7 linked regions of the Homo sapiens genome follow. The protein of the gene in region 1 purifies or fractionates together with the protein of each later gene. This does not show direct contact. Each region holds a gene or a part of one and is shown on either strand. Other genes may lie near its edges.

The links.
Region 2: the proteins of RAPGEF2 (region 1) and BTRC purify together in Homo sapiens (affinity purification with western blotting; 3 studies listed by BioGRID, with this or other methods). This does not show direct contact.
Region 3: the proteins of RAPGEF2 (region 1) and EPB41L5 purify together in Homo sapiens (affinity purification with mass spectrometry, with the first as the bait; one large-scale study listed by BioGRID). This does not show direct contact.
Region 4: the proteins of RAPGEF2 (region 1) and FLNC purify together in Homo sapiens (affinity purification with mass spectrometry, with the first as the bait; one large-scale study listed by BioGRID). This does not show direct contact.
Region 5: the proteins of RAPGEF2 (region 1) and MESD purify together in Homo sapiens (affinity purification with mass spectrometry; one large-scale study listed by BioGRID and IntAct). This does not show direct contact.
Region 6: the proteins of RAPGEF2 (region 1) and COX5A purify together in Homo sapiens (affinity purification with mass spectrometry; one large-scale study listed by BioGRID and IntAct). This does not show direct contact.
Region 7: the proteins of RAPGEF2 (region 1) and USP11 purify together in Homo sapiens (affinity purification with mass spectrometry, with the first as the bait; one large-scale study listed by BioGRID). This does not show direct contact.

The regions. Positions count from the first base shown.
Region 1 is NC_000004.12:159,350,687-159,355,379, forward strand, and holds part of RAPGEF2 (rap guanine nucleotide exchange factor 2), read left to right. Parts: intron 1-372; coding exon of another isoform or gene 373-495; intron 496-1,998; coding exon 1,999-2,224; intron 2,225-2,800; coding exon 2,801-3,360; intron 3,361-4,693. UniProt on the Homo sapiens protein: Functions as a guanine nucleotide exchange factor (GEF), which activates Rap and Ras family of small GTPases by exchanging bound GDP for free GTP in a cAMP-dependent manner.
Region 2 is NC_000010.11:101,554,940-101,558,457, reverse strand, and holds the end of BTRC (F-box/WD repeat-containing protein 1A), read right to left. Parts: 3' UTR 1,145-3,518; downstream 1-1,144. UniProt on the Homo sapiens protein: Substrate recognition component of a SCF (SKP1-CUL1-F-box protein) E3 ubiquitin-protein ligase complex which mediates the ubiquitination and subsequent proteasomal degradation of target proteins. Recognizes and binds to phosphorylated target proteins.
Region 3 is NC_000002.12:120,071,557-120,076,249, reverse strand, and holds part of EPB41L5 (band 4.1-like protein 5), read right to left. Parts: intron 3,073-4,693; coding exon 3,030-3,072; intron 2,151-3,029; coding exon 2,072-2,150; intron 775-2,071; coding exon 730-774; intron 550-729; coding exon 497-549; intron 1-496. UniProt on the Homo sapiens protein: Plays a role in the formation and organization of tight junctions during the establishment of polarity in epithelial cells.
Region 4 is NC_000007.14:128,835,912-128,840,426, forward strand, and holds part of FLNC (filamin-C), read left to right. Parts: intron 1-1,248; coding exon 1,249-1,346; intron 1,347-1,486; coding exon 1,487-1,637; intron 1,638-1,725; coding exon 1,726-1,844; intron 1,845-2,075; coding exon 2,076-2,153; intron 2,154-2,355; coding exon 2,356-2,518; intron 2,519-2,691; coding exon 2,692-2,892; intron 2,893-4,111; coding exon 4,112-4,249; intron 4,250-4,515.
Region 5 is NC_000015.10:80,982,672-80,987,364, reverse strand, and holds part of MESD (LRP chaperone MESD precursor), read left to right. Parts: intron 1-4,693. UniProt on the Homo sapiens protein: Chaperone specifically assisting the folding of beta-propeller/EGF modules within the family of low-density lipoprotein receptors (LDLRs).
Region 6 is NC_000015.10:74,924,229-74,928,921, reverse strand, and holds part of COX5A (cytochrome c oxidase subunit 5A, mitochondrial precursor), read left to right. Parts: intron 1-2,034; coding exon 2,035-2,156; intron 2,157-4,693. UniProt on the Homo sapiens protein: Component of the cytochrome c oxidase, the last enzyme in the mitochondrial electron transport chain which drives oxidative phosphorylation.
Region 7 is NC_000023.11:47,245,285-47,249,387, forward strand, and holds the end of USP11 (ubiquitin carboxyl-terminal hydrolase 11), read left to right. Parts: intron 1-85; coding exon 86-198; intron 199-1,787; coding exon 1,788-1,937; intron 1,938-2,019; coding exon 2,020-2,135; intron 2,136-2,326; coding exon 2,327-2,415; intron 2,416-2,508; coding exon 2,509-2,646; 3' UTR 2,647-3,044; downstream 3,045-4,103.

The sequences.
Region 1 (4,693 bases):
GGTCTTGATTACCTTTTTGGTTGCTACCTTGTTTTATTTTTAGAGACTATATTTTAGGTACTCAGTCGCCTCCTTATGTTGATACATTCTCATATTAAAAGAGTAGGTAATTTTCTGCTGCATAACTCTTCAGGCTACTTCCTCCTCCTACCCTTTTAACTAAATGAGTGTAAGCCAATAATAAATGGCTAGGACGTAGTTTTCCCTAAAGGAAAGCCAAAAGGGCTTAATACATTGTTAAATTTCACTGACTCAACAGGTATTGCTTTACTTGGTAGATATTTCAGACATCTGTGCATTTTGTATGGGTATCAGTCTCTCCTGTCCTTGTTACATGGATGCATCTCAATTCTTTTCTCATCCTGTTGTTAGGTGGCAGTGGCAATCAGCTGAGATCTTTTGGCTCCGGGCAGTTGGACTTAACCAGTTCCTCCTCTTCTCTTGGAAGTGAGAACAGTAACAAGAATAACAATGCACCACGGACCTATGGGATAGGTGGGGTTTATAGAACCAAAAATGGGGTGGGAAAGAGAGGAATCATCTCATTAGTTAATGAAAATGGGAGAATTCCTCCAAATGTCAAGTGCTCCATCTGAGTGATTTATTTTTCTGAAACTTTTTTTTTTTTAAGCAGACTGTTCAGGGAGGGCTTTAAATCTTATCTGTCAGAACTTGCAGTGTGGTTTTATAAAAAGACATTTTATAAATGAACACATTAAATCTTATCAAGACCTGTGCAGCCTTTAAAAAATAAATCAGGAATTACCAATATGCTGAAAGAACATACTTAAACTGGCAACATTTAGATGCTCTAGATTTTAATTTTTCTTAGGTAAGTGGCATTGAAGAAATTTGCATTGCATATAAGATAAAGTCAATATTTAAGTAACATGAGATCCCTAGTAATGTAGACAAGAAAAAATGAATATTGAGAAAGAAGATTTGGATTTTTTTCATTAAAAATACCAAGATAGGGCCGGGTGCAGTGGCTTACGCCTGTAATCCCAGCACTTTGGGAGGCCAAGACAGGCTGATTACCTGAGGCCAGGAGTTCGAGACTAGCTTGGCCAACATGGTGAAACCCCTGTCTCTAGTAAAAATACAAAAAAAAAAAATTAGCCAGACATGGTGGCACATGCCTGTAATCCCAGCCACTCGGGAGGCTGAGGCAGGAGAATCGCTTGAAGCCAGGAGGTGGAGTTTTCAGTGAGCCAAGATCCCGCCACTGCACTCCAGCTTGGGTGACAGAGGGAGACTCCGTCTCAAAAACAAAAAAATCAAGATAGGCCCCTGCCATTGTGTCTTTCAAAATTATTTTTAGTAGCAAAAGAGAGTTAAGGGTCCTTTCAGGCCAAGAAGTGGACATCTGTTTAGATATTCTATAGTAATGATCTTGTGAAAAGTGCCCTTTAACTCCTTCAAAACGATTGGCTTTTATGTGGTTCAACCAATATTAATATTGAAAAACCAAATGGCAAAAATTCAAAGACATCTTCAGGTCTTATTTCTTATTCTTTTTGTTTATATGTTTACTTAAAATTGTAGGTAGGATACAGGTATTTCCAGTTGAATTAGTCTATGCCATACAAGTTCTAAAAATTGAAAACTGTTGAAAACAAGATCAGTGGCTTTGCATTTTGAAAAAAACATACTTTAAAATCTGATCCGTTATTCTTCATGGTTTCTTTTCTGTAGACTAATAGTGTAATTATATAGGTAAGGGAGCTAAGAATAGTTGAGTGGTGCCTTTTCTGCATCTTTTCCTAGCTTGTAGGATACTTTCTTTTTTCCTCTCTAAACTTCGATTAAACAACTTAAGCTTCATTAGAATAAAACATTTGTCTCTTAGTCATGTGGTCTCTACAAGTGAAATGGGGTTTTTCTCCCCACTTAAGAGATATCTATGCCTGCATTTTATTTTTGCTTCTATTTGGTAGACTTCCCTTTGATGTTATAAACCTAGAGAGTCTAATTAATACGGTTGTATTTCTCATGCAGGCTATACTTTGGCTCCCAGTGGTACTGTGGATAATTTTTCAGATTCTGGTCACAGTGAAATTTCTTCACGATCCAGTATTGTTAGCAATTCGTCTTTTGACTCAGTGCCAGTCTCACTGCACGATGAGAGGCGCCAGAGGCATTCTGTCAGCATCGTGGAAACAAACCTAGGGATGGGCAGGATGGAGAGGCGGACCATGATTGAACCTGATCAGTATAGCTTGGGGTAGGTGGCTCTTTTTAATATTCTTCTGAATTTATCCTTCCATCTCTGTTTTAATAATGAGTCTTTTCTTCCAGTGTTTGTTTTTATTTATTTTACATAATGCCTAAGAATTTTTCTGCCATCCCAGTTCTGATTTTCACAATTTCTACACTAAGTATCATGTTATTTTTGTTAAGCAGACTGCTTTTTTAGTTAAGTTTATTCTTCATTGGAACACAGTTGTTCTGTGCTGAAGGCAGAGGGTGACTGTAGGATCCATCCCAGTTGTTTCGTATGAGCTGCCTTCCTGAAATAATCAAATTATATTGAGCCACCCTTAATGTTGTCGGGGAATTTTTTTTTTTTTAATGGCACGTTGCGTTCTTTTCCCGCATGCCTGTTTTATAGTAATGATAAAGTCAGAAGGCTAGACATGGCAGAACTGGCCAATATAAGGCAATTCAGTGCTACTTTTATCCTGTTTCTGGGATGAAAGCAAGCTACCTTTCTAGGAAAAAGGGTATTTTGGTTTTATCATAGGTGAATTAGTTATCAATCTTGTTTTTTTTTTCTTTTCCATTTCTTTTAACCACTTAGGTCCTATGCACCAATGTCCGAGGGCCGAGGCTTATATGCTACAGCTACAGTAATTTCTTCTCCAAGCACAGAGGAACTTTCCCAGGATCAGGGGGATCGCGCGTCACTTGATGCTGCTGACAGTGGCCGTGGGAGCTGGACGTCATGCTCAAGTGGCTCCCATGATAATATACAGACGATCCAGCACCAGAGAAGCTGGGAGACTCTTCCATTCGGGCATACTCACTTTGATTATTCAGGGGATCCTGCAGGTTTATGGGCATCAAGCAGCCATATGGACCAAATTATGTTTTCTGATCATAGCACAAAGTATAACAGGCAAAATCAAAGTAGAGAGAGCCTTGAACAAGCCCAGTCCCGAGCAAGCTGGGCGTCTTCCACAGGTTACTGGGGAGAAGACTCAGAAGGTGACACAGGCACAATAAAGCGGAGGGGTGGAAAGGATGTTTCCATTGAAGCCGAAAGCAGTAGCCTAACGTCTGTGACTACGGAAGAAACCAAGCCTGTCCCCATGCCTGCCCACATAGCTGTGGCATCAAGTACTACAAAGGGGCTCATTGGTAAGTTTTAAAATTGGGGGACTTTGTCATGTCTGGATCATGTCTTTAATGTAACTTATTACAATAGTAAAATTATGTGTTTGTTGGTTCTTTTCCTCATTTTCTCCATTGCTATGTAGGACTTCCAAATTAGTGGTGTGTTAAGGTCTTTGAAATCAATAGTGGTTAAGAGCCCAGGTTTTGTGGTCAGGTACCTACAGATCTGTTCCTATATAACAAAACATTCAATAAATCTTAGCTATCAGGATGAGTAGATTGTCATTGTGAATATTATCTAGTCTAATTTTTTTCTCTTAACCTGAAAATCAGGATGGATTCCTATTATTCATAGAGGAGAAATTTTTCTTTAATTGAAACTCTTTTATATCTTTGATTCTTCTATTTTGTTCTCTTGATTGTATTTAGAACTATACGCTTTGTATACTTAAAAGTCTTCCATTGATTTTTATTCTGCACGCACATTGTTGATAAGCAATTCTTTGTGCACGCTGTAGAAGGAGGGAGAGGTGCTAATAGTGTAATGACTAAGAGCACGGGTTTAGGAGTCAGGCGGACTGGGGATTGAATCCCTGTTTTGCCACTTTATTAGTTTTGTGACATTGGGTAAAATACAAAACAGTGCCTGTTTCCTCATCTGTAAAATGAGCTTCATAATTTCTACTTAATGGAGTTAGTGTGAGGATTCAAGGAAATTTATGCAAAGTATTTAGAACAGTGCCCAGATAGTAGATTCACTAAGTACATGAAAGCTATTGCTGCTGCTGTTCCTGTTAGAAGAGGCTCTCATGCGCCCTCAGTCCTGTTGAGATGTGTTTTCTATGGCACAATTAACATCTATATAGACGAAGTGTAGGAACAGATGATAGGTTGTAGAGTGAGAAATTCTGGAGTATAATCATTACGGACATTACTTTTATTAGTAGGAAAATTGTAGTTATTTAGCCATGTAAATAGTCATGGGTAGATTTCAAGTTTAATATCCTTTTACAATGAATAAGGAGAAAACAGTTAATAAATATTCTTAGGTTGGACTTTTTCAAGTGCTTACAACTAATACTCAGAATTTTTATTGCAAAGGAAGGAAGAATGATTTTTAGTTCCTAACAATTGAGTTTTAAAAGTTCAAGAAAATGAAACTTTAGTTTTACTGGCCTATACAGGTTTCATATTCTAGGTCATGAGCATCAATAAAGGGATTTTAAGAAAAATAGACACCTTATAGTAATAGTTTTAGAATTTTTAAATTGGTATCCTTTGTGCGACTTTTCCAAATTTATTTTAATTCACTGTTTCTGTAAGTGAAGTCTTGAGACCCGAGAGTGATGTAGAATTG
Region 2 (3,518 bases), on another chromosome or scaffold:
CAGGGAGGGATTCCTGGCCCAGCCTGGGAGTAGGAAACCACGGCTATAGGGTTGAGACTTGCCAGGGCAGGCCCTAGACCACACCCTTCCTGGGGAAGAGATCTGACACAGTTTGAGGGTGAGGTCCACAAACTCTTAGGCTCAGCCTCTGCTCAGGAGCCCAGCTGGTGAGGAATATTAACTGAGCAGATACCAGTGGCCCCACAGTGGTTCCTCTGACACCTCCCTCCCTTCCTTCTCTCTCTTGGGTGCTGCCTGCCCTTAGTTGTTAGGGAGGATTCTTCAGTGTAGTTTTGGGCAATGTGGGTCCCTTTTCTTTCTCCTCAGTTTCCTCATCTGCCAAGGGTTGGGTGGACCTGATGCTCTGACATTCTTCCAGCTCTAGTAGGGAGGGTTCTGCACAGCGGCCCTGATATTGACCACAGTCTGAGATTGCTCATGGCCAGTGGTCAGTCCAGACAAGACAATGAGACTACAAGGCTGATGGAAGCCAGAGAGCCTTGGTCATGTGGAAGGGTTATTAATACAAAAAGCCCATAGATCTAAAAGAAGGATGGGTCAATTTTGACAAGGATCCTGTTTGTGACACTAGAGAGGGGAGGGGTACAGGGCCAACGGGGAGAGATAGTCCCATTCGGCCACTGCCTGCAACCTTGTACCTCTCCAGGTTTGGCTGAAGGAGGGAAGGGGGGTTTCACTCAAGAACTGCAATGTCATATCCCAGATAGTCAAGGGTGCCTTCATTCTTACAGCTTGTTGGAGCCCCTCTGGAAATTGCTCCCAGATGTGAGCTTGCTTGCCTATAAACTGATCAAATGGGATGTAGGGGAAACTCAAGTCTTTTCACAGCTGAGGGGCAGAGAAAAATGTAAATTCTGCATTCAGGTTGGGCTGTGGTTGGCTAAGGTGACCAATGCACAAATGAGACATGACTTTGGCTTCAATTTAACTCAACATGGAACAGTAGGCGTAAGCCAGGGACCCCACACTCATCCACAGCATCCAGCCCTGCTTTCTCTCAATCTTGTTTTCTCATGTCAGATTATCTGCAAAGGTATTCTATCTCTGCACTCCCTCAGTCTGTATACTGAAAAGTGTACTGCCCTTCTGGATGCTGGGGCAAGGAGACAAGACGCTTAGAAAATTCACTTTAATCTTATATTTGTAATTTACTTTTTTTCTGAACAGTTAAAAAAAACCCAAAACACACTCCATTATCATGATCCTAGGTTGTGAACATATTGGTACACTGACTACACATCACCATAACATAATCACAAAAGTCAAAGCAGTCAGTACTTAAGAGTCTAGAGAACAAAGAGGTGAACCAGCTGAAAGCTCTCGGGGAAGCTTACATGTGTTGTTAGGCCTGTCCCATCATTGGAGTGCACTGGCCATCCCTCAGATTTGTCTGGGCTGGCCTGAGTGGTCACCGCTTTGAGAAAGCTGTTAGTTTCCTTGGTGCCCAGAGGGCTAACACCCTAGTTGGCCTTTTCCTTCAGTGTCCAAGAAGGGGAAGGGTTAGGAGGGGAGGTAACACTTTAAAATACGACTTAACTGCACTGATCCTTAATAAAACACACAACCAATCAGGAGCTAAGAGCGCCAGCTGTGCTGGTTGGAAAGCACATATTTTAGATGTCATCTGCCTCCAGGACATTTTAGATCACAGGTACTCAACTTCCAACAGAAGGAGCTTCTAAAGATCAATGCATTAAGTTCCACCTGAAACCAGGCAGCCATCATCATGCTCTTTTGATTTCTCTCTTCAGCTCCAAGGATTCTGACACCACAGATGAGCTAAAGAAGCGAAACTGTTTTATTCCCCTAAGAAATGGCTCTCTTTCCGATACTATGTTGACACTGTGGTTAAAGGAGGTCTGGTCTGTTGGTGAACAACTGTGTGGAGGAAGACCAGGGAGGCTGCACCCTAAGCCTCCGGGCTGCACTAATCTGGGTTGGACTGCTCTGCTACAGACTGGAGGGTGTTGCCATCTAAGGCAAAAGGGAGATGCTGAGAAGGTCAACAGTACCAAGGTATCTAGTCCAATTATGGGAAAGAAAAAAATTGCCCTGATTATTTCCAGTATTCCCCACCCCTCCCACCTTTGTTTCCCCACACAATCAAGTGCTAAGTAAGGAGTAGACCAACTACAGCTGTTCAGACCAATGGTACCAGGAGCCGGCAAGGGAAGAGTGCATTTTTTTTTCTCTGTAGCTTTAGACTGTACAGAAGAAAAATAAAAAAGGATTGTTCTTACTCAAGCAAAAAAACCAGAATGATGTAGGGGTCTCACAGACTTTTCTAGTTCGGAAACAAGTTATGAGGGCCAGACTTTTATTACTTGTCAATAGAGATCCAAAAAGAGTCCCTGTCTCTGAAGTTAGGAGACACCAGAAAGAATTTTGCCAAGGGACATGTACAAATGGCCTTCCATCCATGATTCACATCCTTTCAAATTGCACACCAAGTTAAAGGATGTTCTCAGCAGTGAAATACACACACGTGCAGCAAGGCATGCTGGTCTTGTCCAAGTAGCTCCAGTGTGCACCAAAAGGTCACGTGTCTGTACCTCCTCATCTGCCTTTGAAGGGGTTTCAGCCTGTCTTTAAGAAAGGTTTCCTTTAGGCCCTACGTTGGAAAGTAAATTTTAGTGAGAAGAGACTAATCTACAATGGGGACACCTTCAGCTCTGTTTCTACCACTCCTTGGAATGTGCTGAGACTTTGTCTCTCTTTTCGTTTTAAAAAGGTCAAACTTTACATTTATTCTAGCCCAGTTGGGGATTAGTGATAATCAATTCCCACTGAAATCATGCAGAGATGGTAAGTGGGGTTTACCTTCTCTGGAAATGAACTTTTAACTTACCTGATTATTTCTTCTACAACAAACTGGTAAATGACCCCCAGAGCTGAGAAATGTGAACGATTCAAGTTTTTCAGACCACTTAACTTCATTCCCATTTCCATCAGCAGGAGAGAGGACAACTTGGAGAATATCCTCAACTGGGCTAATGGCTCCACATCTGCAGGGGTCGCCCCGATCTCCTTTGTGATGTACTGGACATGTCTCAAAACAGTCTTAGAAACAATATTCCTTCAACTGAACCTAGATTGGAGAGCAAAACCCTGGGCACCAATAAACATTCAACAGCTTCCACTTTGTAATAGCAGCATATGACAGAAAGGCTGGTAAAATTATGGCTATTGGGCAATATTTTGAGACAGCTCGAAACCCATGCCTTTTAAATGTCTGACCTGTGTGTTTTTCAGGGCTGACAGCCCTCTACCTTCATCTATAGCAAAATCCTTACCCAATCAAAAAGCCATTAATAGTCAACACAATAGATGACGAACCCTGATAGTGGCCAAGTAGAAAACATTTCTCTGTAGCATTTGGGTAGCTGGGAAGGGAATTACATTGAGAAAATATTTCTTAGGCTACGATGTATCATTATACTGGGAAATATTTTCTGAATATAACCTTGAACTAAAAGCTTAAAAATACTCATAAAGCA
Region 3 (4,693 bases), on another chromosome or scaffold:
TTCCAAAATTTTAAAATTATTAATCCTAAAGAAATAACTGAAAGGAACTAAAAAAAATCGGGGGGAGAAAGCAGCAGGGAAAAATCTGAACAATGCACAAACATGTATGTACTCATCTGTGGTTATTTCTGAACAAAATGTAGGTTTGGAGCAAAAGGACTGCTAAGCTATATGGCTTCACCAACAATTCACTCCTACATAACTGCATTTCTTTTAAGGAAAAAGTTAGCCGAAGGCCCAATCTTAGCATTTACAGACTTATCAGGTAGAGTATGACGTTTCAACACTTTAGGTGGAAAGGGCGCAATTACATGAAAGAGAAGAAAAAGAAGGCAATGTTCTAAAACAAGTAAAAGTCAGAGTTGGACCCTGATACAAGTTTATACAAAAACAGTGTTGTTTCTTTTCTTGCACATAATTAGAATCTTCTTTAACTAAAAACACACACAAAAAAGATTATACTTGAGTCTTAACAGTCAACATAAGAATTGCTTACCTTGCAGATTATAAGCTGCCAATTGCACTGCTGTATCAAAGGGACAGTCTAATCTGAGACCAAAACACAAGTTTGTTAGACAAGTTGATTTCATAACCTTCATTTTAAGACAAATGAAAATAATACATGTTTTATGTTGACCATTTCTTTTTTACAACTATAAACTTATTTTCAAAATAATTTTTCAACCACTCACGAAAATGTGCATTTATCCTTAAATAACTAATACTCACTTTCCACTGAGAATATCTTGTTTTAACTGAAGAACAAATAAATACCTAAGAAAAATGAAAGGCACAAATTTAACCCAACAGCACAATCGACTGTGAAAAAAAATCTTACACTTCTAACTTGAGAAGTATTATTTCATTAAAAATTACTTGTATTAATGTATAAAAGATGTGCATAGTTTGGGGATACATGAAATAATTGAATACATTCATATAATTTGTAAGGATCAAGTCAGTATACGTGGGGTATCCATCACCTTAAATATTTTTCTCTTCTTTATGCTAGAAATATTTGAATTATTTTCTTCTAGCTATTCTGAAATGTAAAATACGTAATTGTAAACTATAATCACCCTACTGATCTAACACTAGATCTTAGAAGTATTCTTAATTAAAGGCCTGGTGCAGTGGCTCACACCTATAATCCTAGCACTTTGGGAGGGCGAGGCGGGTGGATCACTTGAGGCCAGGAGTTCAAGACCAGCCTGGCCAACATGGCGAAACCCCGTCTCTATTAAAATACGCAAATTGGCTGGGGGTGTGAGCACGTGCCTGTAATCCCAGCTATTTGGGAGGCTGAGGCATGAGAACTGCTTGAACCTGGGGGAACAGAGGTTGCGGTGAACTGAGAACATGCCATTGCACTCCAGCCTAGATGACAGAGCGAGACATCTACTTGTTATGTGAAGGGATACAGACATGGATATAACTACAGATGATAGCTACTATCTCATTGTCAAGGTGTTCTAAAGGAAACCCTTCTAAAGGAACTCAAAAGCTCAACTTTTTCATTTAATAAATAGTATGTGTATATGGAGCAATGAATTTATAATAGAGACCATGAATAAATACAAAGGAGGCAGGATAACATTAAAATAAGTATATACAACATAAGGTTTATTCAAAACTATTCAAACCAATCAGAATCTAATGTTTTTCATTAATCAATGGCATTTCAATGAGTAAAGAAAGTTGGGCGCCAATTTGAATAAACTCCCTGTGGCCAAAGATAGATTATTTTCAACATCAATAAATATAATATTGCAATGTATTGAAACATGTGAATCCTGTTAACATTCCTGAGTTGAGAGTGATACTTAAAAAAAAGAACTCACTAGTCACCTTTGGAGGATGCTAAGAAACCAACTCTTTATTTTGAAAATGCTAAAGGAAAAGAATCATACACTTAAAAAACACGTCCCAGAATAAAATTCTATTATTTGAGGTCTTGTTACCAGGGGACAGGAATCCATTTTATTAGCTGGCTATAAATTGGAAACAATATAAAGACAGTCTTTCAAAACTATCAAAATAACCCTGGCACAATTCTAGATGGTGTTCTTACCGGGTTAGCTCCTCACGAAGGTTATTTGGTTCTGAGGAATAAAACTTAACTCGAAGATGCAGACAATAGGGTGAACCAACTGTCATTTAAAAAAAAAAAAGGTTTTAATAAAATAAACTACTTAAATAATACTTTTCAGCCAGAAAACTGGTCAAAAATCTACTGAAGTGAGACAAAAGATGAGGTTTTTATGGCATTATTGCAGGTTAGATCATAGGCTTCAATTAGATTGTTTTTTAATGTACCAAGCCATCATATTACTATTAACTCTCATCCCAAGAATAGACAGCTATAGATTAATTCTAACAGTTCAGAGCCAAATGCATCAAATAAAAGTCTTGACTGTGCAACCTAACAGCCCTGAAAACCTGCTACACTGAAGAATGCCTATGTTATTAACTGCTCATGGTGAATCTTCCCACACAAATACAATTCAGCAAGTTCACTAACTTCTATAATCTCAGTGGTCTCATTATTTTGAGACAAGAGTTGAGGTGCCCTAATAAGTCTGATAAAAAGTCAAGTTGGATAATGAATAAACAATGGTATTCTCTCTCTGAATGACACTAACATTTTATGTGAATTGTTTCATTTTTCTTAATTTTAAAATATCACAAAGTCTCAAAATACTTTCAATATTAGGGCAGATGCCAAACAGGAAAATTCCAACACAACTAATTAAAAAATAACCATTAAGCATTTCGGGGAAAGTCAATCCCATTTGCAAGCTGCAAGGTTTTCTCCTGGAAAGTTAAGCCCCAATGCAGTTTAATCTAGATTAGTATCAAGCCTACATGACTTGGGGAGTAGCTCAGTGTATCAGAATAAAATAATTTCTAGAAAATGGAAATGCTAAAAAACTCATCTGAAACATGATTTCTTACATCCTATTAGAAATCAGAATTTCTAATATATTCTATTTCCTTTCCCCCCCACAAATAATTTTGTCTGCACTTACTTTTTACTTGCTTTTTGATGCTTTTTGTACCATCCAACCAATGCTGAAAAACAAAAACAAAAATTTAGTTAAGCAGATGACAGAACTTTAAAATTTGAATGAATTACTAAAAGTTACTTTTCATTGTGCCTACACTGATAACCGCAAGGAAATACTTCACAAGAGAAAAACCCAAGTGAATGAGAAAAGAGGTGAGAAGGAAGAGTATCTAGCCAATATCCACCATAGCAAGCTTATGACACACGTGAACAAAAACGACCTAAAACCTGACAGATGACTTTTTTTTTTTTTAAATACTTTAAGTTCTGGGATACATGTGCAGAACGTGCAGGTTTGTTACGTAAGTATACACATGCCATGGTGGTTTGCTGCACCCATCAACACATCATCTACATTAGATATTTCTCCTAATGGTATCCCTCCCCTAGTCCCTCACCCTCCCAACAGGCGCCAGTATGTGATGTTCCCCTCCCTGTGTCCATGTGTTACCATTGTTCAACTCCCACTTATGAGGAAGAACATGCAGTGTTTGGTTTTCTGTTCCTGTGTTAGTTTGCTAAGAATGATGGTTTCCAGCTTCATCTATGTCCCTGCAAAGGACATGAACTCATCCTATTTTATGGCTGCATAGTATTCCATGGTGTATATGTGCTACATTTTCCTTATCCAGTCTATCATTGATGGGCATTTGGGTTGGTTCCAAGTCTTTGCTATTGTGAACAGTGCTGCAATAAACATATGTGTGCATGTGTCTTTATAGTAGAATGACTTATAATCCTTTGGGTATATACGCAGTAATGGGATTGCTGGGTCAAATGATATTTCTGGTTCTAGATCTTTGAGGAAATCACCACACTGTCTTCCACAATGGTTGAACCAATTTACACCCCCACCAAAAAAAGCATTCCTATTTCTCCACATCCTCTCCAGCACCTGTTGTTTCCTGACTTTTTAATAATGGCCATTCTAACTGGTGTGAGATGGTATCTCATTGTGGTTTTGATTTGCATTTCTCTAATAACCAGTGATGATGCGCTTTTTTTCATGTGTTTGCTGGCCATATAAATGTCTGCTTTTGAGAAGTGTCTGTTCATATCCTTCACCCACTTTTTGATGGGGTTGTTTTTTTCTGGAAAATTTGTTTAAGTTTCTTATACATTCTGGATATTAGCTCTTTGCCAGATGGATACATTGCAAAAATTTTCTGTACATTGTACATTTTGTACATTGCCTGTTCGCTCTGATGATAGTTTCTTTTACTGTGCAGAAGCTCTTTAGTTTAATTAGATCCCATTTGTCAATTCTGGCTTTTGTGGCCACTGCTTTTGGTGTTTTAGTTTGAAGTTTTTGCCCATGCCTATGTCCTGCATGGTACTGCCTAGGTTTTCTTCTAGGGTTTTTATGGTTTTAGGTTTTACACGTTTAAGTCTTTAATCCATCTTGAGTTAATTTCTGTATAAGGTGTAAGGAAGGGTCCAGGTTCAGTTTTCTGCATATGGCTAGCCAGTTTTCCCAACACCATTTATTAAATAGGGAATCCTTTCCCTATTGCTTGTTTTTGTCAGGTTTATCAAAGATAAGATGGTTGTGGATGTGTGTTGTTAATTCTGACGCCTCTGTTCTGTTCCATAGGTCTATATATCTGTTTCAGTAGCAGCACCATG
Region 4 (4,515 bases), on another chromosome or scaffold:
CCCCATGAATTTTTTACTGTGCCACGAGGCACTATTCCTGCCGAGCTGAGAGAGAGGCAGTGTGGTGACCAGGACTTGTAGCAAGACCAGGAGTTAGATCCAGAGAAGGCTCTTCTCTGGGAGACCCTGGGATGACTTTGAGAAGGGGTTGAGGCTCAGGATGATGTGGGATGAGGCCAGTGGGGCACTGCCTGGTGGCAGGTGAGCCAGCCTTGCCCCTTCTCCGTGTAGGTCCTGGCCTGGTCAAGTGGGGACAGCTCAGGGGCCATGAAAAAAGCTGAGGCATCACTGGCTAGAGCGTACCCCATGGACAGCTCCCTTTCTGCCCCTCATCTCCTGAAAAGATAGGTTTTCTCCAGGAGTCACAGCCCCTCGGGAGAATCCTCCTCCACCCTGGGGTCAGCCGGGGAGCAGAGGGTGGGAGGCGGGGGCACAGCCTCCTGGGAAGCATTCCCAGCTGCTGAGCCATGGCCCATAACTGGTGTGGCTGCCAGCAGTGAGCTCAGCTGTTCCAGCCAGTCATGGATTCCAGCCTTGAGCCGGCCCCCTCCCCGAAACGGTGTGCCGTCCCCCTCCTCCAGCTCTGGCCTAAACCAAGCGCCCCTTCACCTGCACCGTTCATAGGAGTGATCTGGGGCTGCCTCAGCGTCCTTCCTGTTAGGAAGGCAGGGCTCCTGAGGGCTGCAGAGGAGAAGTCATTCTCTCCTCACAGGCCCTTTAATGCCTCAGTTTCCCCAAGTGAGCAGTTAGAAGGAATAGGGAGTCTCATACCCTAAGACTGGTGTGGAAAGCGTTTGGAGTTCTAGAGCTTCGGGGCAGCTGTGAGGAGGCCTTCTAGGGGGGATGGGTCAGGGGCATATGTGGGACAGGCACTCTGACCTCCTCTGCCCACCCCTGAGAAAGCTGAATGAGGCAAGAGATAGCGAGAGGGGGTACCCTCCCAGGGTTTGGGGTTCAAGGTCTGAGCTGGGGCCTGGGCAGGCAGGAGGCCGGCCAGCAGGGCTGGTGCCAGGCTGCGTCAGCCAGGGCAGAAAGGCTTCATTGTTGGTGGTGGAGAGGGCTGTCCTGCTCCTACGTGGTGAGGGGCCTCGAAGCTGATGGGGTCAGCAGGAACCTGGCTGGTCAAGGCCTAGAGCTGGTGGGAAGGGGTGTAAAGCCACAGCCTCTGAGGGTGTTGGGTGAACAAATGCCCTGCATCCTGGCCGGCTGGCTGCCCCTCACCATCGTCTCCCTCCATCACCTCTCCAGGTCTCTGCCCCGACTGGGAGGCCTGGGACCCCAACCAGCCCGTGGAGAACGCCCGGGAGGCCATGCAGCAGGCCGACGACTGGCTTGGGGTGCCCCAGGTACATGCGCAGATGGGGCAGGGGGGAAAGGGGGCAGGGGCAGAGGTTGGGTCTGTAAGTTTACCTGGCCAGGGTGCAGGGGGAGACTGGGGCTGCTGGGAAAAGAGGGCGCCATGTGACATCACTCCTTTCCATCGCAGGTCATTGCCCCTGAGGAGATTGTGGACCCCAACGTGGATGAGCATTCTGTTATGACCTACCTGTCCCAGTTCCCCAAGGCCAAGCTCAAACCTGGTGCCCCTGTTCGATCCAAGCAGCTGAACCCCAAGAAAGCCATCGCCTATGGGCCTGGTATGTGTGAGCCCCTGGCGGCCCTCCTGGGCAGCTGGGCACATGTAGGCTCTCCCTGAGTAACCTGGGCTCTGCTCCTGCCCCGTAGGCATCGAGCCACAGGGCAACACCGTGCTGCAGCCTGCCCACTTCACCGTGCAGACGGTGGACGCGGGCGTGGGCGAGGTGCTGGTCTACATCGAGGACCCTGAAGGCCACACCGAGGAGGTATGCAGAGGCCGCTGGGGACAGAGGGATTCACTTGGGATTGGAACCAGAGAGCGTGGGGCCAACAACAGGAATGGCCCGGAGGTGACTGCCAGAGCCACACACTGTGCTGTGCAGTCTGGGGAAGGTGTCACCATGGGGGCTGAGTGGGGCTGGGGTGCATAAGGCACTGTGGGGTCAGGAGGGGCTATGGTCATTGGAGAGGCTTCCAATCTTTTTCCTTCCTAATAGGCTAAGGTGGTTCCCAACAATGACAAGGATCGCACCTATGCTGTCTCCTATGTGCCCAAGGTCGCTGGGTTACACAAGGTATCTCCCTCTAGGCCCCCCTGCCTGCGCTGCTCTTCACATCCTTGGTTCCGGCTGCATGGACCCCTCTCTCAGCCTGTACCTCGCGCCTGCCCAGAGCCCCAGCTGCCCGCCTCTCACCCTCCTTGGCCTGGCTGTGCCCCTCTGCCCCCTCTCAGGACTGCTCTCCCCTAGAAGCTAACCTTTGACCTCTGACCCCTAGGTGACCGTGCTCTTTGCTGGCCAGAACATTGAACGCAGTCCCTTTGAGGTGAACGTGGGCATGGCCCTGGGAGATGCCAACAAGGTGTCAGCCCGTGGCCCTGGCCTGGAACCTGTGGGCAATGTGGCCAACAAACCCACCTACTTTGACATCTACACTGCGGGTAGGACGGGCCCCAGGGGGTGCAGGTGGAAAGCCCCTGACCATGTGGGGCTGTGTGGGGGTGGGGGGAGGCTGGGACAGGGATGCCAGCCAGAGGGTGGGCAGCCTCAGGGTGAGGGCACCGGGGCAGCTGTGTGTGTCCAGAGTGGTGCTGACAGCCTCTGTTTTCGGCAGGGGCCGGCACTGGCGATGTTGCTGTGGTGATCGTGGACCCACAGGGCCGGCGGGACACAGTGGAGGTGGCCCTGGAGGACAAGGGTGACAGCACGTTCCGCTGCACATACAGACCTGCCATGGAGGGGCCACATACCGTGCATGTGGCCTTTGCGGGTGCCCCCATCACCCGCAGTCCCTTCCCTGTCCATGTGTCGGAAGGTAAGGGCCCTTCACTGCTCCCCACGGTAGCCCTTACCAAAGCCAGAGGCTTGCAAGGGGCAGGAGGAAGAGCTGGGGCGGGGGTCTGCAGAGACCCCCTCCCTGAGTCCTCCATCCCACCCCCAAGGTGGCTGGAGTTCCTAAGAGCACAGCTGGGAGGCCACAGTGAAGGGTCCCAGAACATGTGCCACCCTGGGAGGGCTGAGCGGAAGTGACGGGGCTGTATGGGTGGGGGCATATCTAGGGAGTACTGCCTGCATGCCAAGCCCTCAGGTGGTGACTGCCCCACTTGTTCTCTCCCTGCACTCAGTGCCCATCGTCCACCAGGCCGAGAGTGATGCCACATTAATGCTCTCCAGTGGAGGCGGGGCCAGGCATGGCCGCAGCTGACTGGCCTCACCTGTGCTGTGTGGCATGGCCCGGGCCGTGTGGAATCGCCCCCCCTTCCTTGGCATTCTGTGGCAGGCCCCAGGTTCCATGCCGTTGTCTGTGTTCTGTGGCAGGTCTAGTGTCTTTGCCACTTGCCTGGTGATTTCTATGATGAAATCTGGGCTCTGAGCCATTGCCTGTGTTCCGTGGTACCCCTTGGGCAGTGCCATCGCCTATGGTCATGGTAGTCCTGGAATATGTGTCGTGTCCTGTTTCGTAGCACCTGTGGGTCCCATGCCATTTTTCTGGATTCTGTGGCAGGCTGAGATTCCCATTCCTTTGCCTGTGTTCCATAGCAAGGCCTGGGCTCATTGCCACTGGCCACGGTCTGTGGTAGGCTGATGTCCACACGTTGCCTGTGTTGTATGGCAGGCTTCGAGTTCTATGAAGTAGCCCTTGTTCTGTGGCATTGCTGGATGTTTTGTGGCATGACTTAGATCCTAAGGTTGCTTTGGTGCCCTGAGAGGCCCAGAGGGCTCTAGATGGATGGCCTTGGGCTGGGTAAAGGGGCCTTCCCTGTCTCTCTGAGCCCACTCTCAGCCCAGGCTCTGCCATGCATTTCCCCAGTGGCACTGGCTCGGAAACTTTCTTGTAACCTGCCTGATCTGGGGCCTGTAGCCAGCTCCAGCCCGGCAGCCCCGGTTGTGCTGGGGACACAAAGGGCTCCAGAGCAGGGCCGTGGGCCACTGCCTGTGCCTGGGAGGGGTTAGAAGGACTGTGCACAGGGAGGTGGGGGCTAGTGGTCCAAGGCCCCTCAGCACCCCCAACCTCCTTTCTCTTCCTCCCCTAGCCTGTAACCCCAACGCCTGCCGCGCCTCTGGGCGAGGCCTGCAGCCCAAGGGTGTTCGCGTGAAAGAGGTGGCTGACTTCAAGGTGTTTACCAAGGGTGCCGGCAGCGGGGAGCTCAAGGTCACGGTCAAGGGGCCAAGTGAGTGCCAGAGCCCAGGGTCGTGAGGGTGGGGCTGGGGGATCATAAGGGAAGTATGGCCAGTGGTTCTGACTCCCAGAGGGCAGTGACAGCCAGCACCACAGCTCCACAGTGACCAGAGGCACCCCAGAATCTCAGGCTCATTGTCTCCTCTCTGCCTCAGTTTCTTGGTCTACAAGCCAGGAATGATTCTCTCCACCCTAAGTGCTATACGGGGTGTTATGCACAGGGATGACAAGTGTTCCCTGCCCTGAGTTGCAGCACTG
Region 5 (4,693 bases), on another chromosome or scaffold:
CTCTACAGACATGAGGACTCTTCCCCAGTAGCAGTGTTTTTTATGTGGGAGAGCGTATCCATCTCTGTGGGTGCTTTTTTTGTAGGAAGCAGTTCTTCTCCTCTTGTGACCATCTCTAAATCCATACCCTCACTCCTTCCCCAGCAGTGTGAGAAACAGTGCTTCAGTGAGAGGCTGTGCCTCAGAGGTGTGGAGAGGTGAGAATTCCTTCCATTGTGTTACAACTAATTCTGAGTCCCAATTGGTGTAGAAAAACCAAAGGTGGTTATTACATTTTACATTATGATAGCCAGGTATAATGGGAAGAGGCAGTTGGAGGGATTTGGAGCCAGAAATGTGGTTTGCACTTCTAGCATGTGAGTAAATTAAGTAAATCATTTATCCTCTCTGAACATCATCTTCCTTGTATATTAAATGGAACCGGGTAGGATTGTTCTGAAGGTTGGAGATAATATATGTAGAGTGCCTGGGACTTAGTAGCTACTTAGTAGATGTCACTTATTATTAATATCAAGAACCATGGGAGGAAGAAGAGGATTTGCAGAAAGGGGAGCTCAGCTTTGTAGCTACTGACTTAGACAAACAGTAATGAAGGAGCTCTAAAGCCAGTTGAAAATGCAAGACTGGCCTGGAGGCAGGGCTAGGACTGGAGTCAGGGGACTGCCTGACTTGTCCCTGGCCCCCCGCTCTGCCTCAGGGTAAAGACTGGATTGTTTTCAGCATAAACACACTGATCATAACAGGTTAGGTTACCCAGACTAAGGGTAGAACTGGATAATTATGTACATCTAGGGTACTATTTTTACACTTCAATTTTAACATATAATAATTATACATATTTATGGGGTACAGAGTTGTATTTCTACACATGTATAAAATGTAATGGTCAATTCAGGGTAATTAGCATATCTGTCTCCTAAACATTAATCATTTCTTTGTGTTGGGAACATTTAAAATTCTCTCCTAGCTGTTTGAAAATATGCAATAAATTATTGTTAACTATAGTCATCCTACAATGCTATAGAGCACTAGAATTTATTCTTCCTATCTAATGTAATTTTGTATCCATTCACCATCCTCTCTCCCTATCTCCCCTCCACTTCCCAGCCTCTAGTAACCACAATTCTAATCTCCACTTATGTGAACACAACTATTTTAGGTCCGCATACGAAGGAGAATGCGCGGTATTTGTCTTTCTGTGTCTGGCTTATTGCACTTAACATAATGTCCTCCAGGCTCATTAGGGTACTATTTTGCAATTTTCTTTTCTGTAACTGAAACACACACACACATATACAATGGAAATTAAAGCTGCTTTTTTTTTTAAGTCTCTTGAAACAATTTTTACCTGTATTATATGCACTAGACTTACGACTATTTAATTATATTTGCATTAACAAAGAAGTGCTGGACTGGGCTTAGTGGCTCATGCCTGTAACCCCAGCACTTTGGAAGACTGAGGCGGGTGAATCCTTCGAGCTCAGGAGTTCGAGACCAGCCTGGGCAACATGGTGAAACCCGTCTTTACCAGAAATACAAAAATAAATTACCCAGGTGTGGTGGCATGCACTTGTGGTCCCAGCTACTCTGGAGGCTGGGATAGGAAGATCACTTGAGCCTGGCAGGCAGAAGTTGCAATGAGCCAAGATTGCACCAGCACCATTGCATTCCAAACTGGGTAATAGAGTAAGACCCCATCTAAAAAAAAAAAAAAAAAAAAAAAAAGCTGCTTGGGACCTACTGAGTTAATTTCATGATTATTAGTGAAATCAATCTGAAAAATACAAATATTCTAGGGTATTGAACCAACTGGAAGTCTTGAAGTGTTTTAAAGAGACTATAACCGATGTTATGGAGAATTAAGATAAAGACAGAAACAACTTGTGAATTTGGCAACTAGGAGGTCCTTTGTGACTTGAGAGTATAATTTCCATGCAGTGATTGTGGTTGGAGGCCAGATCACAGAGGCCTAAAGAGTCAGCAGTGTCATAGCCAACAGATACAGTACTGAGTTCTGCTTGCCTTTAAGTCATTACATCCCCAAACAAACCTTAGGAGGGAGAAGCTGTTATTACCCTCAGCTTTCCATTATAGGTAAGGAAAGTTATTTTCAGATGGGCTAAGTAACTTGCCCAAGGCCACATAGTGATGGAGCGCATCCGTCTGACAGCACAGCCCATGCTCCTGTCTGCAAGTCACCATCAGTGGCTCTTTGAAAGCAAAGTGAGGAAGAAACATGTCAGTTGAGAGGGTGGCAGAGTGGAAAAGAAGGTTAGTGTGTTATGTGTGGTCATGTTACTGGGGCCTTGGAGATCACTTCGTTCTGCTTTTCATTTTGTAAATGAGGAAACAGGCCTCGAGGCGTAAGGATTCTTAGGCAGGGTCACACAGCTAGTTATGCAAAACTGAAACCAGATTCCAGGTCTGACGTCGGTATGGATCACCTTCAAGCACTGCGTAGAATTCTTTCGTTTTTACTTTTTACTAAAATTATTTTTAATATAGTACATTATTAATGGTATCTTAAGCCTTGGCCCTTCAGATATTGTTCAGTAAGAGTGACTTAGGGGCTTTTTTTTGTTTTTTGTTTTGGTAACAGGTTTATTGAGATTCAATTCACATGCCATAGGCAATTTACCCATGTAAAGTGTACATTTTAGTTTTAGTATCTTCAGAGAATTGTACAGTCATCACCAAACTCAATTTTAGAACATTTTTATCATCCCCAAAAGAAACCTTCAACCACTCCTCCCCTGTGTTCTCCCAACTCCCTAGCCAGCCCCGGGCAATCGCTTATCTACCTTCTGTCTCAACAGATTTATCCATTCTGGACATTTCCTATAAATGGAATCATAGAATGTGTAGTCTTTCATATCTGGCTTCTTTCACTTAGCATAATATTTTCATGTATCAATCAGTACTTCATTTCTTTTTTCTTTTTTCTTTTTCTTTTTGGTAGAGATAGGGTCATGATATGTTGCTCAGGCTGGTCTTTAACTCCTGTGCTCAGGTGATCTCCAGCTTCGACCTCCTAAAGTGCTGAGGTTATAGTTGTGAGCCACCATACCCAGCCAGTACTTCATTTTTTTTGGTTGCTGGCATTAGCCTTTTCTCCAAGGAACCTGGTTCTATTAAAGATTTTTTATTTGTCAGTCTATATGCTATTTATTAGGCATGGTGGCTAATGCCTGTAATCCCAGCACTTTGGGAGGCCGAGGTGGGCAGATCACGAGGTCAGGAGATCGAGACCATCCTGGGCAACATGGCAAAACCCCGTCTCTACTAAAAATACAAAAATTAGCTGGATGTGGTGGTGCGTGCCTATAATCCCAGCTACTCGGGAGGCTGAGGCAGGAGAATCGCCTGAACCCAGGAGGCAGAGGTTGCAGTGAGCCGAGATCGTGCCACTGCACTCCAGCCTGGTGACAGAGTGAGACTCCATCTCAAAAAAAAAAAAAAAAAAAAAAAAAGTTACTGTTTTCTATTAGTAATTTATTCATTTGTTTTGATCATTATGGGTTCAACATCTCATTTTGTTTGAGGGGTTGTAAGTCATACTATTATTTATTTTGATGTTGAGATTATTTCAACTTTGGCCCATGAGAGCTGCTTCAAGTTGGCTTCCATGGCATTTTGACATGTTCACGATTCTTTGAGCACTTTACTACTTTGTGATGCGGGATTATTCTAGGCTCATCTTCTGTCTCTCTTGCTATAAGCCTGTTCTCCAAGGAACCCACGCTCTTTTAAATATTTTTATCCATTAATCTGTTTACTCATCTGTTAATCTATGAAAAACCATGAGTTTCTCCTGATACCTTCAATTCCAGCCTAATACCACAGGGCTCATTCTTCCCCCTTTCATGTTTGTAACTTACTTCCCAGAAGTTAAGAACCTGGCTCTCATTACCCTCAATATGTTTACTCCTTTTCTCAATCCTAGAGGTCACATAAGATAGTCTCAGAATTGCTAGCCCATACCACTACAGAAAACAAACCTGCTAACTGGAATTGAATATTTTTGTACAATGCCTATTAAGTGAAATGGGTATACATGGAGTGCAGATTTTAAGTATACAGTGCAAAGAGGGAGTATTTCTTTTCTTTTTTTTTTTTTCTTTTAAGACAGGGTCTCGTTCTGTCTCCCAGGCTGGAATGCAGTGGCATAATTATAGCTTACTGCAGCCCTGATCTCCTGGGCTCAAGTGATCCTCGTGTCTCAGCCTCCTGAGTAGCTAGGACTACAGGCACCTGCCGCCACACCTGACTAATTTTTAAATTTTTTTTAAGAGATGGGATCTCACTATGTTGCCCAGGCTGATCTCAAATTCCTGGGCTCAAGCAATTCTCCCACCTCAGCCTACTGAGTAGCTGGGACTACAGGTGTGCCTCACTGTAGCTGGGACTACAGGTGTGCATTGCCATACCTGGCTACTTTTAAATTTTTTTTTAGAGACAGTCTTACTGTGTTGCCTAGGCTGATGTCGAACTCCTGGCCTCAAGTGATCGTTTTACCTCAGCCTCCCAAAGTGCTGGGATTACAAGGTAAGCCACAGTGCCTGGCCTGCAATAAATTTTGATAAATGGATATATCTGTGTAATCTACACCCCTGTCAAAATGTAGAACATTTTCATCACCCCAGAAAAGTTCTCTTGTGTCCATTCTCAGTTAATCCTCCCTTGTCCCCCCTTC
Region 6 (4,693 bases), on another chromosome or scaffold:
TAATTCTTTGTTGTAGGGGACTGTCCTTTACACTGTAGGGTGTTTAGCATCACCTTTGGCCTCTACCTGCTAGGAGCCAGTATGCACACATTCGTATCATGACAACCAAAAATGTTTCTAGGCATTACCCAGTGTCTCCTGAGGGATGAAGTCACCCTTAATTGAAAACCACTGCTATAGCAATAAGGCTAGATGAGCAAAAGGTAACAGTTTTGTACATTTCAAACAATTTACATAGCACGGGCGCGGTGGCTCACGCCTGTAATCCCAGCACTTTAGGAGGCCAGGGTGGGCGGATCACGAGGTCAGGAGATCAAGACCATTCTGGCTAACATGGTGAAACCCCGTCTCTACTAAAAATACAAAAAAATTAGCCGGACGTGGTGGCGGGCGCCTGTAGTCACAGCTACTCGGGAGGCTGAGGCAGGAGAATGGCGTGAACCCGGGAGGCAGAGCTTGCAGTGAGCCGAGATCGCGCCACTGCACTCCAGCCTGGGCAACAGAGTGAGACTCTGTCTCAGAAAAAAAAAAAAGAATTTACACAAAGCAGTCATTTGGTTCCCTTCCCCTTTGGGTGATGGTTTGGGTTTTTTGTTATTTTTGCATTGTTTTGCCATGAATAAGTATCTAAGTAAGTTAGAACTTGTCTTTCCTAAATTTGCAGATGCACACTTAACATGAAAAAATAGAATTAGGTGTAGGGTAATTTATCTCATACCAAAAATTCAATCTCAATGACTATCGTATTCACTGGTATCCTTTGTTTAAATATTTTAAAGTAATAAAAGCAAGAAACCTAAGTGCTTTAAACTTCTCTGCAGAAATGTAATGATTCCCTTTTGCTACAACCAATAGAATTCTTACTGAACAATCTGGAGTAGAAGTAATAAAAAGAACAATTATGTATTCCCATTAAGAGAATCTTAAATTTTATTATGTGTCATTTTGTGCAGATCTGAAAGTAATCATGCCCAATCATTTTCTGGTTGAATGTTTATGAGTCTGTGTACTAATGTTTCTCTATAATATCTCCTTAATGTCCTCATTTAGGCTTCATTAACTCTACGCATTTCTCTGGCTGTTTTTAGGCTGTTTTCCAGTTGAATCTCTTTTATTTTGGTTTTTTTGTTTGTTTGTTTTGTTTTGTTTGAGATGGAGTTTCTCTCTTATTGCCCAGGCTAGAGTGCAATGGCGCGATCTCAGCTCACTGCAACCTCCACCACCTGGGTTCAAGTGATTCTCCTGCCTCAGCCTCGAGAGTAGCTGGAATTACAGGCATGTGCCACCACGCCCGGCCAATTTTGTATCTTTAATAGAGACAGGGTTTCTCCATGTTGACCAGGCTGGTCTTGAACCCCTGACCTCAGGTGATCCACCTGAGCCCAGCCTTGAATCTCTTTTAAAGCATCCAAAATGTGTTCATTGTACTAAGAGTTAAAGATAGGAGGGCCGGATGTGGTGGCTCATGCCTGTAATCCCAGCACTTTGGGAGGCCGAGGCAGGTGGATCACGAGGTCAGGAGTTCAAGGCCAGCCAGGCCAAGATGCTGAAACCCCGTCTCTACTAAAAATACTAAAATTAGCTGGGCTTGGTGGCACCCGCCTGTAATCCCAGCTACTTGGTAGGCTGAGGCAGGAGAATCACTTGAACCCAGGTGGCAGCGGTTGCAGTAAGCTGAGGTGGCACCACTGTACTCCAGCCTGGGTGACAGAGCAAGACTCCATCTCCAAAAAAAAAGTTAGGAGTTGAAAATGACCCTCTTGTTCTCAAAGGGGAAAAAAAAAACTCAGGATTTTTTCCTTCAATCTGCGTGCTGTTGCATAGTTCTTTCTTTCCACTGATTCACTAAGGGAGATCCACTGTGATCTTATTATCTAGAATTTGTTAAAGGTAGGTTTCTCTCATTTTATAGGTAAGAGAATGGAGACCCAGACAGATAAGATCATACATCAGTGATTCAGTAAAAATATAAATAACTCATAGTTTAAGTGAGGCTCTTCGAGGTTGACATGGCCCTTCTTTTTAATTTTGCAGGGATAAACACACTTGTTACCTATGATATGGTTCCAGAGCCCAAAATCATTGATGCTGCTTTGCGGGCATGCAGACGGTTAAATGATTTTGCTAGTACAGTTCGTATCCTAGAGGTTGTTAAGGTCAGTGAAATAATAATGCTAAAATTGTTCTGTAAATGAGTGGGCTATTGCTGAGGTATCAGAATATTCTGTATTTTTGAATTTGTTAAAATGCCTAAAATGAGTCCTTATATAACTAGAAGGAATGTACATTGCAGTTAAAATCTTTCTAGAGGCTACTTTGGCAGCATTTATTCAAGGCCTTACAAATTGTACATGATACACTTTTGTTCAGCAATTCCATTTAAGAATTTATCTTTTTTCTTTTTTCTCTCTTTTTTTTTTTTCTTTCTTTTTTAAGAATTTATCTTGGCCGTGTGTGATGGCTCATGCCTGTAATCCCAGCACTTTAGGAGGCTAAGGCGGGTGGATCATGCAATGTCAGGAGTTTGAGACCAGCCTGGCCAACATGGTGAAACCCTGTCTCTACTAAAAATATAAAAATTAGGCCAGGCGCGGTGGCTCACGCCTGTAATCCCAGCTCTTTGGGAGGCCGAGGCGGGCGGATCACGAGGTCAGGAGATCGAAACCATCCTGGCTAACACGGTGAAACCCTGTCTCTACTAAAAATACAAAAAAATTAGCCGGGTGTGGTGGCAGGCGCCTGTAGTCCCAGCTACTCAGGAGGCTGAGGCGGGAGAATGGCGTGAACCCGGGAGGCAAAGCTTGCAGTGAGCCAAGACAGCGCCACTGCACTCCAGCCTGGGTGACAGAGCAAGACTCTGTCTCAAAAAAAAAAAAAAAAAAAAAAAAATTAGCTGGGCATGGTGGCACATGCCTGTAATCCCAGCTACTTGGGAGGCCCAGGCAGGAGAATTGCTTGAACCCGGGAGGCGGAGGTAGCAGTGAGCTGAGATCGCACCATTGCACTCCAGCCTGGGCAACAAGAGAGAAACTCCGTCTCTAAAAAAAAAAAGAAAGGAATTTATCAAGGAAATAATAAAGGATATATAAAGATTTAACTACAAAGTGTATTCATCTTCTTGCTATTTGTCATACGAAATGTTAGGAATTCTTAAGAGGGAGCTTCCCAGAACTGGTTATACTACACAACTGTTGATACTGTAGAAATGTGTTTGACTTTAAACATATTTGTGTCGGCTGGGCACGGTGGCTCACGCCTGTAATCCCAGCACTTTGGGAGACTGAGGCAGGTGGATCACCTGAGGTCAAGAGTTCGAGACCAGCCTGACCAAGATGGAGAAACCCCATCTCTACTGAAAATAAAAAATTAGCCGGGCGTGGGGGTGCATGCCTGTAATCCCAGCTAGTCGGGAGGCTGAGGCAGGGGAATTGCTTGAACCCGGGAGGCAGAGGTTACAGTGAGCCAAGATGGCACCATTGCACTCCAGCCTGGGCAACAAGAGAGAGAAACTCCATCTCAAAAAATATATATATACATTATATGAAAACATAGGAGGATATATACTAATTTTCCTCCTTCTTATTTGGTCATAATTTCTGAGTTTATTTATTTTTTCGAGACAGAGTCTCACTCTGTCGCCCAAGCTGGAGTGCAATCATTGCGTGATCTCAGCTCACTGCAACCTCCGAGGTCTCCTGGGTTCAAGCAATTCTTCTGCCTCAGCCTCCCGAGTAGCTGGGATTACAGGCTAATTTTGTATTTTAAGAGACGGGGTTTCTCCATGTTGGTCAGGCTGATCTCAAACTCCTGACCTCAGTTGATCCGCCCGCCTCAGCCTCCCAAAGTGCTGGGATTACAGGCGTGAGCCACCACGCCCGGCCGGCACTTTCTTAGTTCTTTTGACTTCTTATTCGTTCCTAAGGAACCTTGTGACAGCACAGGTGTAACTATATATTACAGTGAAAAGTCTCCAGCCCTGGACATATGTATTCTCAAAGTACAGCTCTCCATGAAAAGATACTGTGGTCTGTAAGAAAGAAACTTAAGGTCCGTTAACAGCAAAAGTGTGACATTACTTTATCTATAATGGGTAAGATAATTAAGGGTTCTGTAGGCTATCAATCCATTCAGCACTGGTAGTTAATTCAGTTAAGGTCTCAAATTGGAGGCAAATGAAAAAACTTTTCCCGTTAACTTAATTATTCGTGTTGCCTGCTGGGCATGTCTAATTGCCTTCACAAAATTCTGTCATCACTACCTTCTTTTCCAGTAATTCTAGACTTTAAGATGTTCTGGATTTAGTCCAATTGCAGTTATTCTCAAGGTATTTCAAAAGCCTACCTTGAACAGTACATATATAAGTTGCCCTCTTTATTTTTATTTAATTATTATTATTTTTTTGAGACAGAGTCTCGCTCTGTCCCCTAGGCTGGAGTGTAGTGTCATGATCTCAGCTCACTGCAACCTCCGCCTCCCTAGTTCAAGCATTCCCGAGTAGCTGGGATTACAGGGGCGTGCCACCACACCCAGCAAATTTTTGTATTTTTAGTAGAGACGGGGTTTCACCATGTTGGTCAGGATGGTCTCGAACTCCTGACCTTGTGATCCACCCGCCTTGGCCTCCCAAAGTGCTGGAATTACAGGCATGAGCCACGGCACCCAGCAAGTTGCCCTACTTACCGAACAAATGTGT
Region 7 (4,103 bases), on another chromosome or scaffold:
GTGTCTCCCCCGCTGGGCCCCCACTCCCCATTTCTCCATCTGTCCTCACAGCCGGCCATCTGGTTGTCTGTTCACCCAATCCTAGGGCTACGTGAAGCATGACTGCGTCGGGTACGTGATGAAGAAGGCTCCCGTGCGGCTGCAGGAGTGCATTGAGCTCTTCACCACTGTGGAGACCCTGGAGAAGGAAAACCCCTGGTGAGGGGCCAGAGCGGGGCCTGTGTGTGGGGGTTTCATTGGATGGAACTACTATATTTAGCTTTTTTTTTTTTTTTTTGAGACAGAGTCTGGCTCTGTCAACCCAGGCTGAAGTGCAGTGGTACAATCTCGGCTCAGTGCAACCTCTGCCTCCCAGGATCAAGCTGTTCTCCTGCCTAAGTCTCCTGAGTAGCTGGGATTATAGGCACCCACTACCATGCCTGGCTAATTTTTATATTTTTAGTAGAAACAGGTTTTGCCACGTTGGCCAGGCTGGTCTCGAACTCCTGACTAAAGATGATCCACCCGCCTTGGCCTTCCAAAGTGCTGGGATTACAGGCGTGAGCCACCACACCTGGCCTATATTTAGCTCTTTAAGTATACCTTCCTCCTCCCTCCTCCACACTCAAACCCTTCTTGCCAACCTGGCCACCAATCTCCTGAGCAGACTCCTACCCCAGAGCCTTGGCCTGTGCTGTTCCTTCTCCAGGAATGTTGTTCCCAGTGATCTACAGGACTTCACTCCTTACGATGCTCAGGTCTCCGATCAAATGTGACCTCATCAGAGAGACCTCCTCTGACTACCCTGTTAAAAATCACCCTTCCCCACCATCCCTCTCCATCCCCTCTCTGCTCTTTTCTTCCTAGCCAAGCATTACTTTCTAGCTCAGCGATGCCACTTGATGTGATGTCCTGTATCCACTTTTGTGTTATTTGTCATCTTCGTTAGAGTCAACTCCTCGAGGGTGAAGACTTAAGTTCACTGTGTGTTGCTTCTACCTGTTTATAATAGTGTTGAGTGTTCGGTTGATGCTCAGTAGACACTTGCAGAATAAACAAAAAGAGAACCAAAACCACACTCCCTAGTCTCAGAAATAAGAGCAGCATGTCCGTGGAGCAGAAATGGAACAGAAATACAAAATAGTTCCAAAGGGTTAAACAAGCAATCAATAAATACTGGGGAGTGAATGAATGACTAAAATACGAAGAGAGGAAACTAGAAGGATAGAGGTGGGCTCTAAAATAAGACTAGCATCTCATGGAACAGAAATCAAACAAAAATACAAAAAATAGTATGAGCACATATACAAAAGATAGTAAGCACTTGACGAGTGAGTGAAAGGATTTTAACAGGAACAGAGCAAACTAGAATACTAGATGGGCTAATAGTAAGAGCAGTGTTTCTGTGAGCCAGACATGGCACGTGAGAGGCAGTACAAAGGGCGCACAGTAGGTGCTCAGAAAAAGTCTGTTTTGGCTGGGCATTGTGGCTCATGCCTGTCATCCGAGTACCTTGGGAGGCCGACACGGGTGGATCACCTGAGGTCAGGAATTCAAGGCCAGCCTGGCCAACATGGTGAAACCCTGTCTCTATTAAAAATACACAAATTAGCAGGGCATGGTGGTGCATGCCTGTAATTCCAGCTACTCGGGAGGCTGAGGCAGGAGAATCGCTTGAACCCAGGAGGTGGAGGCTGCAGTGATCCGAGATCGCGCCACTGTACTCCAGCCTGGGCAACAGAGCGATTCTCTGTCTCAAAAAAAAAAAAAAGAAAAAGTCCGTTTGCTGACTCGGGCTCTGTCTGTAGGTACTGCCCTTCCTGCAAGCAGCACCAGCTGGCAACCAAGAAGCTGGACCTGTGGATGCTGCCGGAGATTCTCATCATCCACCTGAAACGCTTTTCCTACACCAAGTTCTCCCGAGAGAAGCTGGACACCCTCGTGGAGTTTCCTATCCGGTCAGGGGCCAGGGAGAGGATGGCTGGGGGAAGGCAGGGAAAGGAGGGGGTGTACCAGTATTAACCCTCTCCCCACCCACAGGGACCTGGACTTCTCTGAGTTTGTCATCCAGCCACAGAATGAGTCGAATCCGGAGCTGTACAAATATGACCTCATCGCGGTTTCCAACCATTATGGGGGCATGCGTGATGGACACTGTATGTGCCAGGCTGTGGGTGGGGCCTGCCCTGGGGGTTCTGGGCAGGGGGGCGATCAGGACCTTCCCAGTGAGTGACTAGGGATGTGAGCCAGTGGTGAGGTTATCGTGGTGGGAGGAGTGACAAGAGTGAATCTGGACACTTCTGAGAGGCAGGAAGGGTAGGCGAGGATAACTCTCCTTCCCTTTCAGACACAACATTTGCCTGCAACAAGGACAGCGGCCAGTGGCACTACTTTGATGACAACAGCGTCTCCCCTGTCAATGAGAATCAGATCGAGGTGTGACTTCCATCCTACCTCCTCCCCTTCTTCCTTTCTGATTCCACCTCCCCACCCCCACAATCCACACTGACTCCTGTCCTCTCCCCACAGTCCAAGGCAGCCTATGTCCTCTTCTACCAACGCCAGGACGTGGCGCGACGCCTGCTGTCCCCGGCCGGCTCATCTGGCGCCCCAGCCTCCCCTGCCTGCAGCTCCCCACCCAGCTCTGAGTTCATGGATGTTAATTGAGAGCCCTGGGTCCTGCCACAGAAAAAAAAAAAAAAAAGCCCTCTCTGCAATCTCGCTTCTCGTGTCCGCCCCGCTTCTCTTATTCGTGTTAGGTGCCCCCGCCAGGCATTGCAGGCTTAGTCGTGGCTACTGTTCTCCTGTGCCGCTGCATCGCTCTCTCCCGGGAAAGAACAGGTCGTGTCTCCTCCTAGCAGTGCGCGCCCCGCCTGTGTTTGCCCTTCCAGCAGTGACCCTCCCTTCTAGTCTTTATTTATGGTCGTGCCCTTCCCTCTCCTCAGCCCAGAGTGTTCTGCGTGGGTGGTGATGGGGGTTCACCTGAACACAGAGTGTATTTTCTTATTGAGGCCCTGTACCTTCTGCTGTGTGTGTGTATATATAAAGCACCAGTCTGCTCCCCACTCAGCAGTGTGGTTTTTTCCTCCATGGACTTAACTAAGCACCAGTTTTGTGCCTGTGTTCTGTGTTCTTATCAAAGGCCAGATGTGTGATGGGTGCAGCTCTGAGTGGTTAGTGAGCACCAGCTGTGGGCTGGGTACTGCTGTTCTAAGTGCTTTGAAAGCACCCTCTGTGTGCCAGGCACGATTCCAAGCACCAATGGCATGCCCAGTTTTTTCCAAAATATTTTCCAAATATTGATACGTAATCCTCACAACAATCTCATGCAAGAGTTGTCATCTCCAGTTTCGGATGGGGATACTGAGGTACAGAGGTCACAGAATTGCTCAGGGCTTGTCAGGAGGTCAGTATACCTCATGTGCTACCCGAGTCGGTCCCTGGAGTGGGTGCTTGGCTTGTCTGGACCCAGGACTGCTACTCAATCTGCAGACATGAGCTGCCCTACAGGCAATGTGGAAATGGAGCACGTGGGACGGATGCATCCATGTGGGCAAATTTGTGGTTTGGGGACATAAAAATACTCCTCTCAGGCCAGGTGCCACCTGTTATCTCAACACTTTGGGAGGCCAAGGCAGGAGGATCACTTGGGCCCTGGATGTTGAGGTTGCAGTGATCTATGATCGTGCCACTGCACTCCAGTCTGGGCCACAGAGCAAGACCCCATCTCAAAAAAAGGATGCTATTCCCCAGACCACCTCACAGACCCCCAGTAGTGTCCTCTGAGAAGATTTTGTCCCCCTGAGACCTCCTTTGGAGATGGTACATGCATTTGGCAGACCAGCCAACCTGCCAGGACAAATGTGCTGTCTGTGTGTGGCCCCTGTAGTCAGCCCCCTCTCCCATCATGACCCCAGCTCCCACACCAGGCAGGTTCCCTCCAACCTCACCCCAGACGACACTGAACACCTGCCGCAGGAATTTGGACATAAATAAGCCATCCAACCCTTCACACTGATGGGTGAGGGGAATCCTGATCGGTGGCAGCTGAGAGGCCATTCTCATGGCCAGGGCCTCAACACTCCCCCCAGCCTTCTGCCTTTGCACTGGGTCTGGGCAGACCC